Regions from separate parts of the Homo sapiens genome. Here region 1 is linked to region 2. The links come from fine-mapping of genetic effects on gene expression. A gene starts in region 2. The other region holds a variant in brackets. All regions are shown on one strand. Distances are between the middles of the regions.

Region 1 (8,881 bases), 37 kb after region 2:
ATTTTAGGAGTTGTATGCCAGGAAAAAGGATGAAGACTGTATAAAGGACCCTTGACATAACTAACTCCATCTTAGAAAAAGACTCCATTTTATATTTCGTAGGGCATTTGGCCAACAAGATAAAATGTTCTAAGAAACAAATTAAAAATGATAAAGACTGCATCCGACCAAATAAGGCCACAGACAAGCACACTCTTCCAACTTTCAGTTCTTATCACAGGACTCCACGACTAAAAGAGAAGGCCTTCAGCAGCTTGAAATGGCTATCTTAGCTGACACTGTCTTGCAGTCACTCATGATGATAATTTGGCATCTGCCACTGAAGGCTCTGCCACCTCAGACTCTTCTTTGCAAGACCAACGGGTAGCCAGGCCCAAACCAGGCCTCCTTTGTTCTTCTTAGATCCTCATCAACAGGCTTATTAACCCTTTCTCCTGTCTCTTTTTCCTCTTGATGTTAAATAGTACTTAGTTTGTTGTGGAACGTTTAACCTATAACATTTATGTAAATGTTATAGGTAGAGAGGATTGCCATATTTGGGAGAGAGGGTCTCTCTCTCTCTCTCCCACTGGACGTGAACAAGGGCTCATTTTGTCCTAAGGTCTTGCTGGCAGCTATCCTTAAGACTTTATAACATTTAGGAAGCTATACAGCTTCTCTTTCTGCTGTAGTCTAATCACCAGAAGTTATAAGCCCACCCAGATTCAAGGGTAGAGGATGTAGGCCTCATTTCTTGATGGAGAGAGTGTCAAAGAATTTGCAGCCGTGTTTTAGTGCTGCCACAACTAGCTACTCTAATACACTTTAAAGATTTCTTGATTCTTCGGTGGTGTGATTAGAGTAAAATCCTGAAAAATAGAAAGGCCTGGGGGAAGGGGAGACTGTAAGATCTAGGGAAGGGAAGATTTTTTATCCTATTCTAAGAACAATCACAGGAAGAAGGGAGGTAGTTGGTACTAACTAGAAAGAAGCAAGTCAGACAGACATTATCCATTCATCCCCTCCCAGGTCCAAGAGTTTGCTTACGATTATAAACAGCAAGAAGACTGTATTTCGTGATGCTCTCTTAGCTCAGGGCTACAGAGCAATGCTGTTGTATGTAGGAAAGAATGATTTCTTGAACTTGAATCCACAGTAGGTTCTGAGTTTTTTCCAACTCAACAATTGCTATGACTCAGTTAACTCAACAAATAGAATATGATGTACTAGCCTGATATCCATCCCTCTCCCTCCCTTCTAATATAACCTTGATTCTATTCAGGAATCACCCTCATATGCAGAGGTGGATCTTGACTGATCTAAGCCACTCAGGGTGTAGCATTCCCCTGGCTTTTATTGGTTAAGTGGGAGAAGACGGAACTTTGTCCTAAATAGGGCCAATCTGGTAGAGGGGAGTGCCATGTTTGGGAGAGATGATCTCTCTCTCCCACTGTACATGAACAAGGGCTCATTTTGTCCTAGGTTCTGCTGGCAAAACCTAAGATTTTGAAGGCAGCCAGTCTGAGGTCAATGCCAAATAGCCAAGGAGGACAGAGTGGAGGGATAGAATATGGTCTTGGTGACATCACTGAGCTTCTAACGCAACCAACCCAGATTTCTTACAATTTCAAGTAAATTTCCCTGCTGTTTAAGCCAATTTAAGTCAGGGCTTGTTACCTTCATCCAAAGGCATCCTAGTGAATACCTTGGTATTTACTGAGTACCTACTAAAAAGATAAGAAACTCTCTTTCTGGAAGGAGCTAATAATGAACAGGGGAGGAAACTTGACATTTAATGAAGAAGAAAGAAATGCTGACCTGGAGACCAGGAGCTCTAGACCTAGCTATGTCACCCAGGGTGACCACCGATTAAATTGTCTAGATCTCAGTCTCTACAATCATGAAATGAGAAAGTGGAGTGTGGACTGTATGTTTGCTAAGATCTCCTCTGGCTAAATTACTGTGTCTTAATGTCAACTAGAGGAAATATGATGCCCCCACTTTTTTTTTTTTTTTTTTTGGTAAGCATCAGTGGTCCACAAAGAATTTAACAATTGGTACCAACAGAGAGGCAAAAAATACCTTTTTTTTTTTAGACAAAGCCTCACTCTGTCGCCAAGGCTGGAGTGCAGTGGCATGATCTCGGCTCACTGCAATCTCTGCCTCCCGGGTACAAGCGATTCTCCTGTCTCAGCCTCCCAAGTAGCTGGGATTACAGGCATATGCCCCCATGCCCAGCTAATTTTTGTATTTTTAGTAGACACGGGTTTTCGCCATGTTGGCCAGGCTGGTCTCGAACTCCTGACCTCAGGTGATCCACCCATCTCGGCCTCCCAAAGTGCTGGGATTACAGGTGTGAGCCACTGGGCCTGGCCAAGAAGGAATATAATTGCCTTTTAAGAAAATATTCTGCTTGCTTTCTTTTTTAGAGATGAGGTCTCACTGTGTCAGCCAGGCTGGATTAAAAAACTCCTGGACTCAAGCAGTCCTTCTGCCTCAGCCTCCTGAGTAGCCAGCACTACTGCCTGGCTTCTACTTGCTTATTTTAATATTAATAACAAAATATAGTAAGCTCTGAGCTTTAAATACAATAGATATCAAAATTATTTAATAAAAAATATTCATGGTCCCAGCATGGTGGCTCATACCTGTAATCCCAGCACATTGGGAGGCTGAGGCAGGAGCATTGCTTGAGGCCAGGAGTTCAACACCAGTCTGGGCAACCTGGCAAAACCCCATCTCTTAAAAAAATTCAAAATAAGCCAGGCCTGGGGCTACATGCCTGTGGTCCCAGCTACTTGGGAGGCTGAGGCGGGAGGATCACTTGAGCCTGGGAAGTGGAGGTTGCAGTGAACTGTGATCGTGCAACTGCACTCCAGCCTGGGCAACAGAGCGATACCCCGTCTCAAAACAAAACAAAACAAAATATTCACCATTATGTGTCTAGTAAAGTGAAGAAAAGAAATAGGAAAGGAAACTGTCAATATAAAAGAAAAGGGAGGAGAACAGGCAGAGTTAGAGACATAAAGACACAAAATGGGATGGGACTTAGAGGAAAACCAGTGAGAGAAAACTCAGAAAGACACAGTTACTGGGACAGTAAAAAACAAAACAAAACAAAAACCCACAAAAAACTGAGAGAGACACCCAGGTTTTCAAATATGGTGTCTTAAAAATAGATAGAAAATGCATGAAGAGCAAGGCATCTACTGAGAGGTCTGGAAACAGACACACCTCGAGATACATCATACAAAGGCAGTCATGGGACAAGGAGAGAACACTTTCACAAAACCAGGAAGAGATAGACAGACAACAAGGGAAAAAAAGCACATGGGATTGAAGCAGATTTTGTGGGATGACCTTAAGCTGCACCTGTTTTCTTTGGCTGTGGTTATTAAAATAATATGACCTGTTGACATACAAGAACTTTCTAAAATTTTATGCTATAGCCAAGAGTGAGTTTTAAATGCCCTGCCTTGTGCTATCTCACATCAGAACATGCTTAGATGCCTCCCAGACTTGCAAGTTTTTAAAGTTTCAAAAAGAGAGTGATGGCGATGTGTTATGGGAAGGATACTGGCCAAGGAGGAAGGAAATCTCAGTTTTGGTTTCGGTCTGACAGGGGTCAGTTGTCAAGCCACTTCTCTTCCCTGAACTTGTTTCCTCATAGCAAAGTGAGGTAATCGGGCTAGATTATATCTAACTCTTTCCATCTTAAATATTCTCTAATTCTGAATGTTGCCTTCCAGTGGTAATTTCTAGATATTGCAGAATGTAGTAGCCTTTGTCTTCTAAAAATCCTAATGAAGGCAGCTTTTGGGAGCCAAAAGGATTTTCTAGCAGAGCTAGCAAGTTATACTTCTAAGAGTTAAAAGTTAATTATAAAAACTAAATTCATGCTTCTGCTCATGTGCAAAATCTTCAGAATCTACCAGAACAATACAAGGTAACACCAAAAAGAAAACTTAGTTTTTGAAAAAGTTTTTGAAAAAGAAGTGGAAATACTGTTTTGTGTTGTTCTGTTTTTATCCGTGCCATCCCACTGGAGAAGAGAGAAAGGTTGGCAACATCATTGGGAGTATGAGCAGAGCTCAGAACCATCCCTAGAGACTCAGTCCTTGTCCCTTTCGCCAATATTTTGTTATTGTGGCTTTAAGCACTTTTTGGTTTGAAAATACACGCGTGATCTATATATGTTCTTGTTGCAAATAAGTGAAACAATTCGGACGTAAATAAAATAAAAGTAACAGTGAGATTTAATGACTCCCTCCCCCAATTTCACTCCCTTCCTCAGAGGTAACCCCTTAGAAGCTTGTAGTATATCTTTCCAGAACTTTCCCCATACACTTATATTCATATAAGCACACATCCACCTATATGTATTTATATTTTCTTCATTTTTGTTGTTATTGTTAGCATAGTACATAATGCATATTATTCTGCAACTTCCTTTTTTATAATGATTCCACATATACATAAACACCATGTTGTTTCACCATGTTGGCCAGCTGGTCTCGAACAACTGCAAACTCCACTCAACATCTTTCACATTTCACGTTAAATGGGAGGAGAAATGCTTAAAAAATGTATTTGAGGGTGTGTGGAAAGGAAGAAATGGTATTACTTTGACTTTCTTTTTTTTTAAAAAGATTTGGGTCATTTTGGCCACCAAAACAGGAACTTTATCCTGTATGGGCAGTTGCCTACTGCACAGCCATTTCTTCCCTTCTTCTTTGCTAA[C/T]GGAACTTGATTTCGTTTAGCAATGTTGTGGTCATGAGCTGTAGAGAAGCCTAGACCTTTTCCAGCCTCAGTGTGTGAACTTTCAGTTAGTCTAAACCAGTGGTTCTCAAATTTGAGCTACATCAGAGCCATTTGGAGGGCTTGTTAAAAACACAACTTGGTGAGCTCTACTCTACCCTCCGAGTTTCTGATTCTGGTGGGGCTTGAGAATGTGCATTTCTAACAAGTTTCCAGGTAATGCTGATCTTGGCACAAGGACCACACTTTGAGAACTGCCGCTCTAAGCCAATTATGGTGTTCTATTGTCTTGCCATGCTTAGGACTAAGCATATGATACAGTTCTGGACAATTAATCCTCAGGGATAATCTGCTAGAGGGATTCTGGGACACAGGAAGTAACGAGTTCTTTCTCAGTCTTTGGACATGGTGATGCTTAAAGATGTGATGCTGGGAGCTACTACGGCAGCCAACTTGCTTCCAGAGAAGACTGGCTGACATGCTGAGAGTAGCAAAGCAAAGAGAGGGAAGAATCTGGGTTACTGATGACATTATTGTAGATTAAACAGCTCTGGAGCTGCCCTAACTTCAAGAAACTTAATATGTGAGATAGTAAAACATTTATTGTTATTTAAGCCATTTGAGCAGAATTTTCTGTACTTGCTTCAGAAAGCCACCTAACTGATTCATTCATACCCCTCTCTCTCAGTGCTCAGGGAGACTCCAGCTGATGTAGCAGCAGAGCAATTTACTTGAAGCATGATTTTGGATATTTTAGGTTGTTTCTAATTTTCATTATCATTCAGTAGCTCTGCAAAGAGTAACAGTGCTTTTGTATATTTTGGGATATTTCCAAAGGTCATTTTCCCAGAAGCAAAATTACAATGTCAAAAGTACATGAATTTCCAAGGTTTTGATAGTTTTTCCAAATCTCTTTCCAAAACAATTGTTTTAATTTCTACCCTATTCAGAAATATATGCAAGTTCATTTAATCACGTTCTTTTTTCTTAATTGTGGGCAATTTCATAGCTGAGAAATGGGGTCTCATAATTTTTATTTGCATTTATTTGATTACTAGTGTGGAATCAACATTTACCATGTGTCTGTCAACCAGTTGCATTTCCTCTTTCATATTGCTATTAGATGGAAAGCACTTAGCACCATGTCTGGCCCTCTTGGATATTTATTTTTTGTTTAACTAAATGTTTTTGGGTTTCTCTATTGATATCCCTGCCTTTGCCTATTTATCAAAACTCTATGTTCTTCTCATTAATTTCTTATATAATAAAAATACCCCTTTGCAGGGAGACATGAATTTTTACACATTTTTTTTCCAGTTTGCAGTTAGTAGTTTGTTTTTGGTTGGTTTTAGTTTTGTATCATTCCGAAATTTAAAAGTTTTATGAAGGTGTTTTCTTTTCTTTCTTTCTTTTTTTGTTTTTTTTTTTTTTTTTTTTTTGAGACAGAGTCTCACTCTGTTGCCCAGGCTGGAGTGCAGTGGCATGATCTCCGCTCGCTGCAACCTTTGCCTCACTTCCTGGGTTCAAGTGAGCACGTTCGGCTAATTTTTGTATTTTCAGTAGGGACGGGGTTTCACCATGTTGGCCAGCTGGTCTCGAACTTCTGACCTCATGTAATCCGCCTGCCTCCGCCTCCCGAAGTGCTAGGATTACAGGCATGAGCCACCACGCCTGGTCTCTTTTCCTTCAGAGAATTTACTCAAGATTCAATTCTATTATCCTCTGGTGTATCCATAGCTTGATTCGTGTGTTTCACTCTATGATCCTTATGAAACAGATTTGCTTGTATTCTGAGAGGAGCTGTCTGCTTAACAACTTGCCTGGCTCGAGGGGCTTACTAATGCCTTTTAGCTCCCTGCTTTTTGACTCTCTTTACAACTCTCCTTAGAACCCAACAAAAAGAGACATAAAATAAGTGACATAAAAATGTGAAATGCTTAAACCATTTATTTTACATTGCTGACTTTTTTCCATGTATCTTTCCTTTCTGATTAGTACTTAAAATCAAGGCAGAAGCACCTTAAAGATAGAAATGGCTAAATATTCTTGAACCTTTCAATCGTAGGATGCCAGAACAGGCCTCTAGCGTAGAAAATGTCTATACTGAGATCAAAGAGTCTCCCCTAGAGCAGAGTTTGTTGTATTCTGAGTATGAGGAGAGTAGGACAGTGTGATGGAGCTGCAGTGGAGTAAATGGGTTTTGGTATCACAGTGCTTTACAGAACACATTAAGGAGTTTGGGTTTTGTCGTGAGGGTGTGGGGAGCCACTGAATTATTTGAAGCAGGAAAGTGACATAATATAATTTGTACTTTAACAAAATTACTCTGGTTGCTGCTTGTAAATAGGCTGGAGGAGTAAGACTGGGAGCAGAAAGATGAGTTGGTCTCTTGCGGTAGTCATGGTGGCAGATGAAGATAGCCTCAGGCTAAGGTAATGGTGGTGGGGTTGAGATATTTAGCAAGGAGAACTGGCACAATTGGATGTGGGTTATGAAAGAGAATGTGGGAATCACAATGATATCCAGATTCCTGCCTTAGGAGGTGCCATTCCCTGAGGTGGGGAATATGATGGAAAGAAGCTTAGCTGGAAGGGGTTGTGGAGAGATGGTAAGTTCAGGTTTGGATATTCTGCGTTTGAGGTGCCTGTGGACATAGCAGGGGAGTGGTCAATATCAGCTGGGTAACTGGAAGGAGAAATCTGGGCTAGAGCTAGAGACACAGACTGGAGCTGAATTGTGCTTTTAGAAAATTAACTGGAAGCCAAAGAGATGACTCCTTATTTGCTGATACCTTGCAGCAGGTCTATTTCCAGTGACAAGGAGGCAAGTTTGAATTGGTTAGAGCCTCATTCACAGTTCTTCAAATGTTCTTGTCAAGTATTTACTTGCTACTAAGGAGGATGGCTTCAACCTTCCCCAGGACCATTTTCCAGCATCCTTCAGCATGTTTGCTTAGGACCAAGTTCCCACCCTACTGAATTTTACCCTTGCTGGAGACACATGCACTTGATACAGTTAAAGGGCAAAACAGGCCTGATGGGGAGGTTCCAACGCATTTGCGTTGCAGACCGTAGGCGTTAGAATCTAACTCCTAGTTTTCTACTACAACTTCAAATGCCACCCTCCTCACTAAGGGTCTAAAGCCAGAGTGCGGATGAATGAATCAAGCCTTTCTTTCTGAGTACCACTGTCTGAAGTCATGCTGAGGTCAAGAGACATTCAATCAGAAGAGCAGACCAAGTGGCTTAAGGTAAGTGCAGCCCCGGGTTCTCCTTGCTCTGGACTCTTTTTTTTTTTTTTTTTTTTTTTTGAGACGGAGTCTCCCTCTGTCGCCCAGGCTGGAGTGCAGTGGCGGGATCTCGGCTCACTGCAAGCTCCGCCTCCCGGGTTCACGCCATTCTCCTGCCTCAGCCTCCCAAGTAGCTGGGACTACAGGCGCCCGCCACTACGCCCGGCTAATTTTTTGTATTTTTAGTAGAGACGGGGTTTCACCGTTTTAGCCGGGATGGTCTCGATCTCCTGACCTCGTGATCCGCCCGCCTCGGCCTCCCAAAGTGCTGGGATTACAGGCGTGAGCCACTGTGCCCGGCCTGCTCTGGACTCTTAATCTCACTCCCCTAGACCATTAGTTGGCTGTTTGTTGCATTAAACCACTCAGATCTCTCTTTCATTTCCTTGTAAACTGGATTCCTTTGTCCTGCAGAAGAGATGTACACTGTCCACTTTTGTTTCAACAGAGGGCAGTAGAGAACAGCAAACAGTTTACATTTCTAAGCCCAGAAGAAACAAAACAAATCCATTTACAACATTCTCCCCAGGTCAAGGTACCCAAAATATGGCACACTGTGCTTCGTGTGTTCATAAATGGGGCATGTCTTTGTGAAAGTAGGGCAGATCCCGGAGAGTCAGCGACTCGTAGACGACTCTTCCTCTTGTGAACAACAGTTTAGTTATGTGTAACTCATGGAAGGCTTTATGGAGAAGGAGTTTGATCTTGAAGGATAAGTATGAGTTGGCAAGATAGCTTTGTTCACAGAAAGCAGCATGGGCTCAAACATGGCAATAGCATGGCAAGCTTGGGGAAGTTAGGAATAGGATTGGGCAGAATCTGACAAGACCGCAATATACCTCAAGACTCTAGGTG
Region 2 (8,880 bases):
CATACTCTTAATGTCCCTTTCCTTCTTCATTTTTCTCCATTGTGCTTATTACTACTGATGTACTATTAATATATGTTTACTGTTTGTTTTGTGTCTGACTTCCCCACTCCTCTCATTAGAATGTGAGCTCCAGGAGAGGTCTTTGTCTGTTTTGTTCACTACCACATACTCAGAGCCCAGGTCAGTGTCTAGTGCATAGTAAAGCGCTTAATAAATATGTGCGGAATGAGTAAATTCTTTGACGTTTGAAATCAGAGACTTTAAACTGGAAAGTCCTTAGAAACAATGTAGTCCAATCTCTTCATTTTAAAACGGAGGAAGCTGTGGCCCAGACAGGTGAAATGACTTGTTCAAGGACAAACAGGTAGTGGATGTCACTGACTTTTATATATATATAGTTTGGATTATACTACAAATTTTGTTCTATAGTGAAATGGTTTGGCTGTGTCCCCACCCGAATATCATCTTGAATTCCCACAACACATGGGAGGGACCCAGTGGAAGGTAACTGAATCATGGGGCAGGTCTTTCCCATGCTGTTCTTGTGATAGTGAATAAGTCTCATGAGATCTGATGGTTTTAAAAAGGGGAGTTTCCCTGCACAAGCTCTCTCTTCTCTTGTTTGCCACCATGTGAGACATGACTTTCACCTTTTGCCATGATTGTGAGGCCTCCCAGCCACGTGGAACTGTAAGTCCATTAAACCTCTTTCTTTTGTAAATTGCCCCGTCTCAGGTATGTCTTTATTAGCAGTGTGAGAATGGGCTAACACATACAACTTGCTTTTTTTTTGTACTCAATATTGAGTCGTGAGCTTTGCACCACATTAGAATGTCTATTTAAGTCATTACTTTAAGGTCGGTTCTATTTTTAAAGCTACTCAAACTAAGCTACTAAACATAAGTGGATATATTTAAGTGTATGTATAAAATTTATACTAGGCCAGCTGCAGTGGCTCATGCCTGTAATCCCAAAGCTGTGGAAGGTAGAGGTGGGACTGATTGAGGCCACGAGTTCAAGGCTGCAGTGAGCTGTGATTGCATCACTGTACTCCAGCCTGAGGGACAGAGCAGGAACCAGAAAAAAATAAAATAAAAAGAAACAAACAAAAAAACCCCCAACAACCCTACAGTGGCTCTTTTAGAAAAAACAAACAAACAAAACCAAAACTGTACTGCATGCATAAGCTCCCCTATGCTATGTTTGAACCACTCTGAAGAGATCAATTAAAAAGAAGTGAGTGATATTGGAAGCATGCCTCTGTGATGCTGTGGTAACATTCATAGGCTGCGTTAGGGCTATGCCTGTAACTCTTGGAGATGAGTGGGTAAGTGGGGTTTTGAGGTGGCTGGGGGCTGGAAGAGAAGGTTGGAGGAGCCCACACAAGACAGCCCCTTAACACGCCGGGGCACAGAACCCCAGGCTGGGCCAACTTTTCCCTGCTGAGGTGAAGACCCGTCTCTTGCAGGCCGTTGGCAAATGTCTTGACTCTGGCATCCAGGTGTGACCAGCTTAGACCCTGAGAGTGAGTGAATTTAAAGTTGACAGCTTCTTTCCCTTTTGGAATTATGAAATAGGTTACTTCTTTTCAAGGACAGTTTGATTTTCCACTGTGTAAGTCATATATTGCACATTTCTTTAAACATTCCCTTTTTTCCTGAACTGATCACCTTACCAGTACGGCTGATCCTCTCAAGCAGCAAACTCTACCAGCTGTCACTGGTGCTCTCGGAGAGACGATTAACCAAGGAACCCAGCCCGGGAACAGTACTGACCTCTACTTCTGGACTCCTGCCTCCCTCTTAAAAAGTCCCTTGAACTTCCTAGTGGGTTCTAACCTGTCAAAGGAGAAAATAGCCATCTATGGAGTAAGGGTTTTTAGTTTCTCTTTTTACAAATGGAAGTTTCCTCTGAATCAGGCAAGTAACGTTAAATAGAAGCCAACTTTTAAGTTTCTCTAACACACTGCTAAATTGTAACACCAGACTGTACCACATACTCTCCAGCTGCCAGCTATTGCAGTTGCCATCCTTGTTACTATAGTGGTGAGTATCTCTGCCTGTCATGCGTGAGAGAGGGGGTCGATTCCCCGACGGGGAGGTCACGGGAAATTGTGTGAGGATTTTGTCAACCTTCAGAAGTCTCAGAAATGTCTCCTTGTTTTGGCTTTCAGCGGAAATCCGAACGCCAGCAGATCTGAATGGAATGTTCTGGATTGAAGAAAGTGGGAAATGGCCTCAATTCACAAAGTCACAACCTGATAAAAACCAGTGTGACTTTACTGCCCAGTGAACCCATCTCGTCCTCCAGCCTTTAGGAGGTAGGTTGGACTGGAGCCTGCAGTAGTTTACTCTCCACCTGAGTCCTGGTCTCCAGCTGGGAACCCACTTAGGCCATAAAGAAAAACGCACACTGTGCCTCTCCACCGGGCCTCTGGAGACGAGGCTCCTCGGGGATACAAACAGTGGGGAGAACATGAGGGACATCCCGACCGTACTCTGCGTCCTCCTTTCCCAGGTGTTGCGTTCTCTCTTGGGCTGAGTGGCGAGGTCTCTCCCGAGTCCCAGGGCCACAGTGCAATGTCACATCTCCTTTGTGGAAAGTGACTGGTAAAGGAGAGAGAACAAAACTGGAGGAATGTAAAGTCTTCAGCCACCTGGTTTAATTTATTCAAGAGTGATTAATCCTAGATGAGAAAAAGAATTGAAATGGATCGGAAAAAAATGAAAGTGCATTGGCCGGGAATCGAACCCGGGCCTCCCGCGTGGCAGGCGAGAATTCTACCACTGAACCACCAATGCTACTGTCAGCTAAAGACCTGCAGTATTGTCTCTTAAAGCTCACTATCTCTGGCCATTCACTAAGGAACCAGGCACCGTCTTAAATCGCGGTTTGGAAAATATTTTGTTCAAGATAAAACTGTTTTAAGATATACGTGTATATATCTTATATATCTGTATTCGCATGGTAACATATCTTCGGCCTTCCTGAGCCGCTGGGCTCTCAGCGGCCCTCCAAGGCAGCCCGCAGGCCCCTGTGTGCCTCAGGGATCCGACCTCCCACAGCCCCGGGGAGACCTTGCCTCTAAAGTTGCTGCTTTTGCAGCCTCTGCCACAACCGCGCGTCCTCAGAGCCAGCCCGGAGGAGCTAGAACCTTCCCCGCATTTCTTTCAGCAGCCTGAGTCAGAGGCGGGCTGGCCTGGCGTAGCCGCCCAGCCTCGCGGCTCATGCCCCGATCTGCCCGAACCTTCTCCCGGGGTCAGCGCCGCGCCGCGCCACCCGGCTGAGTCAGCCCGGGCGGGCGAGAGGCTCTCAACTGGGCGGGAAGGTGCGGGAAGGTGCGGAAAGGTTCGCGAAAGTTCGCGGCGGCGGGGGTCGGGTGAGGCGCAAAAGGATAAAAAGCCGGTGGAAGCGGAGCTGAGCAGATCCGAGCCGGGCTGGCTGCAGAGAAACCGCAGGGAGAGCCTCACTGCTGAGCGCCCCTCGACGGCGGAGCGGCAGCAGCCTCCGTGGCCTCCAGCATCCGACAAGAAGCTTCAGCCATGCAGGCCCCACGGGAGCTCGCGGTGGGCATCGACCTGGGCACCACCTACTCGTGCGTGGGCGTGTTTCAGCAGGGCCGCGTGGAGATCCTGGCCAACGACCAGGGCAACCGCACCACGCCCAGCTACGTGGCCTTCACCGACACCGAGCGGCTGGTCGGGGACGCGGCCAAGAGCCAGGCGGCCCTGAACCCCCACAACACCGTGTTCGATGCCAAGCGGCTGATCGGGCGCAAGTTCGCGGACACCACGGTGCAGTCGGACATGAAGCACTGGCCCTTCCGGGTGGTGAGCGAGGGCGGCAAGCCCAAGGTGCGCGTATGCTACCGCGGGGAGGACAAGACGTTCTACCCCGAGGAGATCTCGTCCATGGTGCTGAGCAAGATGAAGGAGACGGCCGAGGCGTACCTGGGCCAGCCCGTGAAGCACGCAGTGATCACCGTGCCCGCCTATTTCAATGACTCGCAGCGCCAGGCCACCAAGGACGCGGGGGCCATCGCGGGGCTCAACGTGTTGCGGATCATCAATGAGCCCACGGCAGCTGCCATCGCCTATGGGCTGGACCGGCGGGGCGCGGGAGAGCGCAACGTGCTCATTTTTGACCTGGGTGGGGGCACCTTCGATGTGTCGGTTCTCTCCATTGACGCTGGTGTCTTTGAGGTGAAAGCCACTGCTGGAGATACCCACCTGGGAGGAGAGGACTTCGACAACCGGCTCGTGAACCACTTCATGGAAGAATTCCGGCGGAAGCATGGGAAGGACCTGAGCGGGAACAAGCGTGCCCTGCGCAGGCTGCGCACAGCCTGTGAGCGCGCCAAGCGCACCCTGTCCTCCAGCACCCAGGCCACCCTGGAGATAGACTCCCTGTTCGAGGGCGTGGACTTCTACACGTCCATCACTCGTGCCCGCTTTGAGGAACTGTGCTCAGACCTCTTCCGCAGCACCCTGGAGCCGGTGGAGAAGGCCCTGCGGGATGCCAAGCTGGACAAGGCCCAGATTCATGACGTCGTCCTGGTGGGGGGCTCCACACGCATCCCCAAGGTGCAGAAGTTGCTGCAGGACTTCTTCAACGGCAAGGAGCTGAACAAGAGCATCAACCCTGATGAGGCTGTGGCCTATGGGGCTGCTGTGCAGGCGGCCGTGTTGATGGGGGACAAATGTGAGAAAGTGCAGGATCTCCTGCTGCTGGATGTGGCTCCCCTGTCTCTGGGGCTGGAGACAGCAGGTGGGGTGATGACCACGCTGATCCAGAGGAACGCCACTATCCCCACCAAGCAGACCCAGACTTTCACCACCTACTCGGACAACCAGCCTGGGGTCTTCATCCAGGTGTATGAGGGTGAGAGGGCCATGACCAAGGACAACAACCTGCTGGGGCGTTTTGAACTCAGTGGCATCCCTCCTGCCCCACGTGGAGTCCCCCAGATAGAGGTGACTTTTGACATTGATGCTAATGGCATCCTGAGCGTGACAGCCACTGACAGGAGCACAGGTAAGGCTAACAAGATCACCATCACCAATGACAAGGGCCGGCTGAGCAAGGAGGAGGTGGAGAGGATGGTTCATGAAGCCGAGCAGTACAAGGCTGAGGATGAGGCCCAGAGGGACAGAGTGGCTGCCAAAAACTCGCTGGAGGCCCATGTCTTCCATGTGAAAGGTTCTTTGCAAGAGGAAAGCCTTAGGGACAAGATTCCCGAAGAGGACAGGCGCAAAATGCAAGACAAGTGTCGGGAAGTCCTTGCCTGGCTGGAGCACAACCAGCTGGCAGAGAAGGAGGAGTATGAGCATCAGAAGAGGGAGCTGGAGCAAATCTGTCGCCCCATCTTCTCCAGGCTCTATGGGGGGCCTGGTGTCCCTGGGGGCAGCAGTTGTGGCACTCAAGCCCGCCAGGGGGACCCCAGCACCGGCCCCATCATTGAGGAGGTTGATTGAATGGCCCTTCGTGATAAGTCAGCTGTGACTGTCAGGGCTATGCTATGGGCCTTCTAGACTGTCTTCTATGATCCTGCCCTTCAGAGATGAACTTTCCCTCCAAAGCTAGAACTTTCTTCCCAGGATAACTGAAGTCTTTTGACTTTTTGCGGGGAGGGCGGTTCATCCTCTTCTGCTTCAAATAAAAAGTCATTAATTTATTAAAACTTGTGTGGCACTTTAACATTGCTTTCACCTATATTTTGTGTACTTTGTTACTTGCATGTATGAATTTTGTTATGTAAAATATAGTTATAGACCTAAATAAGCTTTTAAAACTCCTTCTTGTTTTTCATTCCAACCAATCGAAGTACAAAAGTACCCAAAGGCTTTCAGAAGCAGAAAATGTTGGGGTGGGTGCTGAAGGAGGAATGTGAAGAATATTCCTGAGACCGTGTACATGATTCCTATAGGGGAAGGCAGGATTTGGAAAAGAATTTGAGGCCAATACATTGGAACAGTACTGAAGAGTTAGGGCTGGTAAAGAGGAGAGGATTGAGACTTACAATGCAGGAAGAGAGAGGGAGAGATGTGGAATTGGAAAAGCAGAGAATGAAGAGAAACTTAAGTACTGGCAGTGTTTCCATGTGTGATCCTATGATTCAAATTCTGTATTTTTGTCATAGGAACCTGGTTGAGTTTGTCAGTCTAGCTGTTTTAATAACACTAACAAATAGTTTACATGCTTATTAGCTGTTTGTAATCATGTCACTTTATCCATTGTTCTTTTAGAGAAAAGACTCTGAGTCCTGGACTCTGGAGGATGGTATATGTCAGAGGAAGTAGATCTGGTGGTACGATTAAAGTTACTATTGACTTTATCTATGTCAGAGAAATAGTATGATCCCATGTGGTTTCTGCCCATGGCATAATGAGGATGTTGGAACAAGACTCTATAGATTTTCAGCCCTGCCACTTTATATACTGTGCAAATTAAACTCTCCAAGCTTCAGTTTCCCCTTCCCTGCAGTGGGGATGATGATGATGATAACAGTACCAACCTCCAGACTGTTGTGAGGGTTCAATTAATTAATATATGTAAGAGGCAAAGAAGAAAGGTGTATAATATACTATCAACAAACATTAGCAATTACTATTAATTGTTAGTTGGGTGATAACTATGTATCAGGTACTTGACATACACAATCTAACTTAATCTTCACAGCAGCATTATGGAATACTATCTTCTTTTTGAAGATGAGCATTATGAGGTTCAAAGAGGTTAAACAATTTATTCAAAGACACAAAGCTATAAAGTGGGGACAGGAAGGCTGGAATGAAGAACCCTGTCCTGCCTGAGTCTAGAGCCTCAGCATGCCACCTTACAAATAGGCCATAACTCCACTTATTACCAGACCTTCCCCTAGATGTTTTGAAATTGGTCATATTATTCCTTTGAAACACAGCTGGATGCTGAGCCCCGTGAGAAAAAGTGTGCATTTTATTGTATACTTGCAGAGACAGAGTCTTGCTCTGTCGCCTAAGCTGGAGTGCAAAGGTGCGATCTCAACTCACTGCAACCTCTGCCTCCCGGGTTCAACCGATTCTCCTGCCTCAGCCTCCCCAGTAGCTGGGATTACAGTTGCCTGCCATCACACCCAGCTAAGTTTTGTATTTTTAGTAGAGATGGGGTTTCACCATGTTGGTCAAGCTGGTCTCAGACTCGTGACCTCAGGTGATCTGCCCACCTCAGCCTCCCAAAGTGCTGGGATTACAGGTGTGAGCCACCACGCCTAGCTAGTTGTGTGTTTTTTATAGCAAGTGACGGAATCTGCAAAATATCCTTAGGCACAACTTTACTGCCAGTTGAGTCAATGACAATATAAAAGCAAGGATATTTGCCTTTGCTTTGTTGGTGTAAACAAAATAATCAAAAGGATAAACTTGTGTTAGTTCCCAGTCAATCCAATCCAGAGTATATTTGCCCTATGGGCATTGGGAGATTTATTTTTATCTCAGAAATTATGGGAGAGCTTGGCTAGAACAATGCTACATTATACATTATATTTCTTAGGTTGATTTTTTAAAGACGGAGAGAAGGTTACACTAACAACTCACTTGTCCCTGGCTGTCATTTCACATTTTTAACTGCCCTCTTTTCCTGGCCCTGGCCCAAGTCTTACGCAGCCTGGCTTCACATGGAAGGAACCTGAAAAAAAAAAAAAAGAGAGAGAGAGATGGAGTAACACGTACATCCTGCATTACATTCTTCCTTTCCTGAATCTCATCTCAATTCTCAACATTGACCCCCCTCAACCTGTTTGAACTTCTCAAGAGGATTGATAGTACTCACTTTTTTATAGTTTCTTAGTATTTTGATAGTATGCCTTTTATCCTTTTAAAAAACCCAACACACACAGAATATAAGAAGAAAGATTTTTATCGTGTTTAGTTGTGACATCTCAGATCCTCCCATTTGAGTGCAATCTATTTTTCTATAGAGAAATATAAACAAACTTTATTTACTTTTAAACGTCTGTTGATCATTTTGGTTTAGTTTCTTTGGGGACTGTTTCTTGTATACTAGGTATCTAAAAATCCTTATATTGTATGTAGTCTTAGTTTGATTATTGTAATCACAACTATGTCACCCAGTTCCAAAGGGGGGGAAAAAAGTTTGAACAAATTAAATCAGAACACATGCCCATTATTAAAAAAATCAATTCTTGGTACAAGCAGTTTCTTGCCCCCTTCCCAGGTCCTACTCCTCACAGGCAACCACTTTCAAGTTGTTGGTTTTTTAAAAGAATTTTTGATTTTGCAATAATTTTAGATGAACAGACAAGTTGCAAAGATACTACATAAAGTCATTACTCTATATCCTTTCTACTTCCCCTAATGTTAAAACCTTACATAACCATGTTATATTTATCAAACCTAAGAAATTGGCATTGGTATAACATTAATGACTAACTGTAGATTTTATTCATGTTACTTTTTTTTTTTTTGGACACAGGGTCTCACTCTGTACGCCAGGCTGGAGTGCAGCCTGGAGTCAGCCGATCTCGGCTCACAAAAACCTCTGCCCCCTGGGCTCAAGAGATTCGCCTCAGGCTCCCGGAGTAGCTGGGACTACAGGCGCGAACCCCGGGTACTTGGGAGGCTGAGGCACGAGAACCGCGTGGACCGGGAAGACGGAGGCTGCAGTGAGCCAAGATTGAGCCACTGTGCTTCAGCCTGGGGTACAGAGTGAGACCCTGTCTAAAAAAAAAAAAAAAAAAAAAAAGGCTGGGGAGCGGGGCAAGGCGGTGGGAGAACCTGATCCTTACCAAAGTTTGACACTACTGCGTTAGCGTTAAAAAAAAAAACCCAGCTAAGACTGTAGAGCAAATTAAAGGATCCTGAGTTGAGGGCGTTCTCTTGTTTA

Evidence for each region.
Region 1: its variant is fine-mapped to the expression of HSPA6 in whole blood (TOPMed, PIP above 0.99). The same link has a PIP of 0.9 or more in blood mononuclear cells.

Annotation. Positions count from the first base shown.
Region 1 is chr1:161,557,884-161,566,764 of GRCh38, forward strand. No RefSeq gene overlaps it. Among named protein-coding and RNA genes, the nearest start is that of FCGR3A, 13 kb to the left of the region's middle. The variant C/T (reference allele first, on the strand shown) is at 4,720.
Region 2 is chr1:161,521,117-161,529,996 of GRCh38, forward strand. HSPA6 (heat shock protein family A (Hsp70) member 6) reads left to right here and starts at 3,424. Exons shown (of 1, transcript NM_002155.5): 1 at 3,424-5,778. The coding sequence starts at 3,543. The coding sequence ends at 5,474. TRG-GCC2-1 (tRNA-Gly (anticodon GCC) 2-1) reads right to left here and starts at 2,801; the gene lies at 2,731-2,801. It also overlaps a transcript of FCGR2A not described here and the pseudogene TRD-GTC10-1.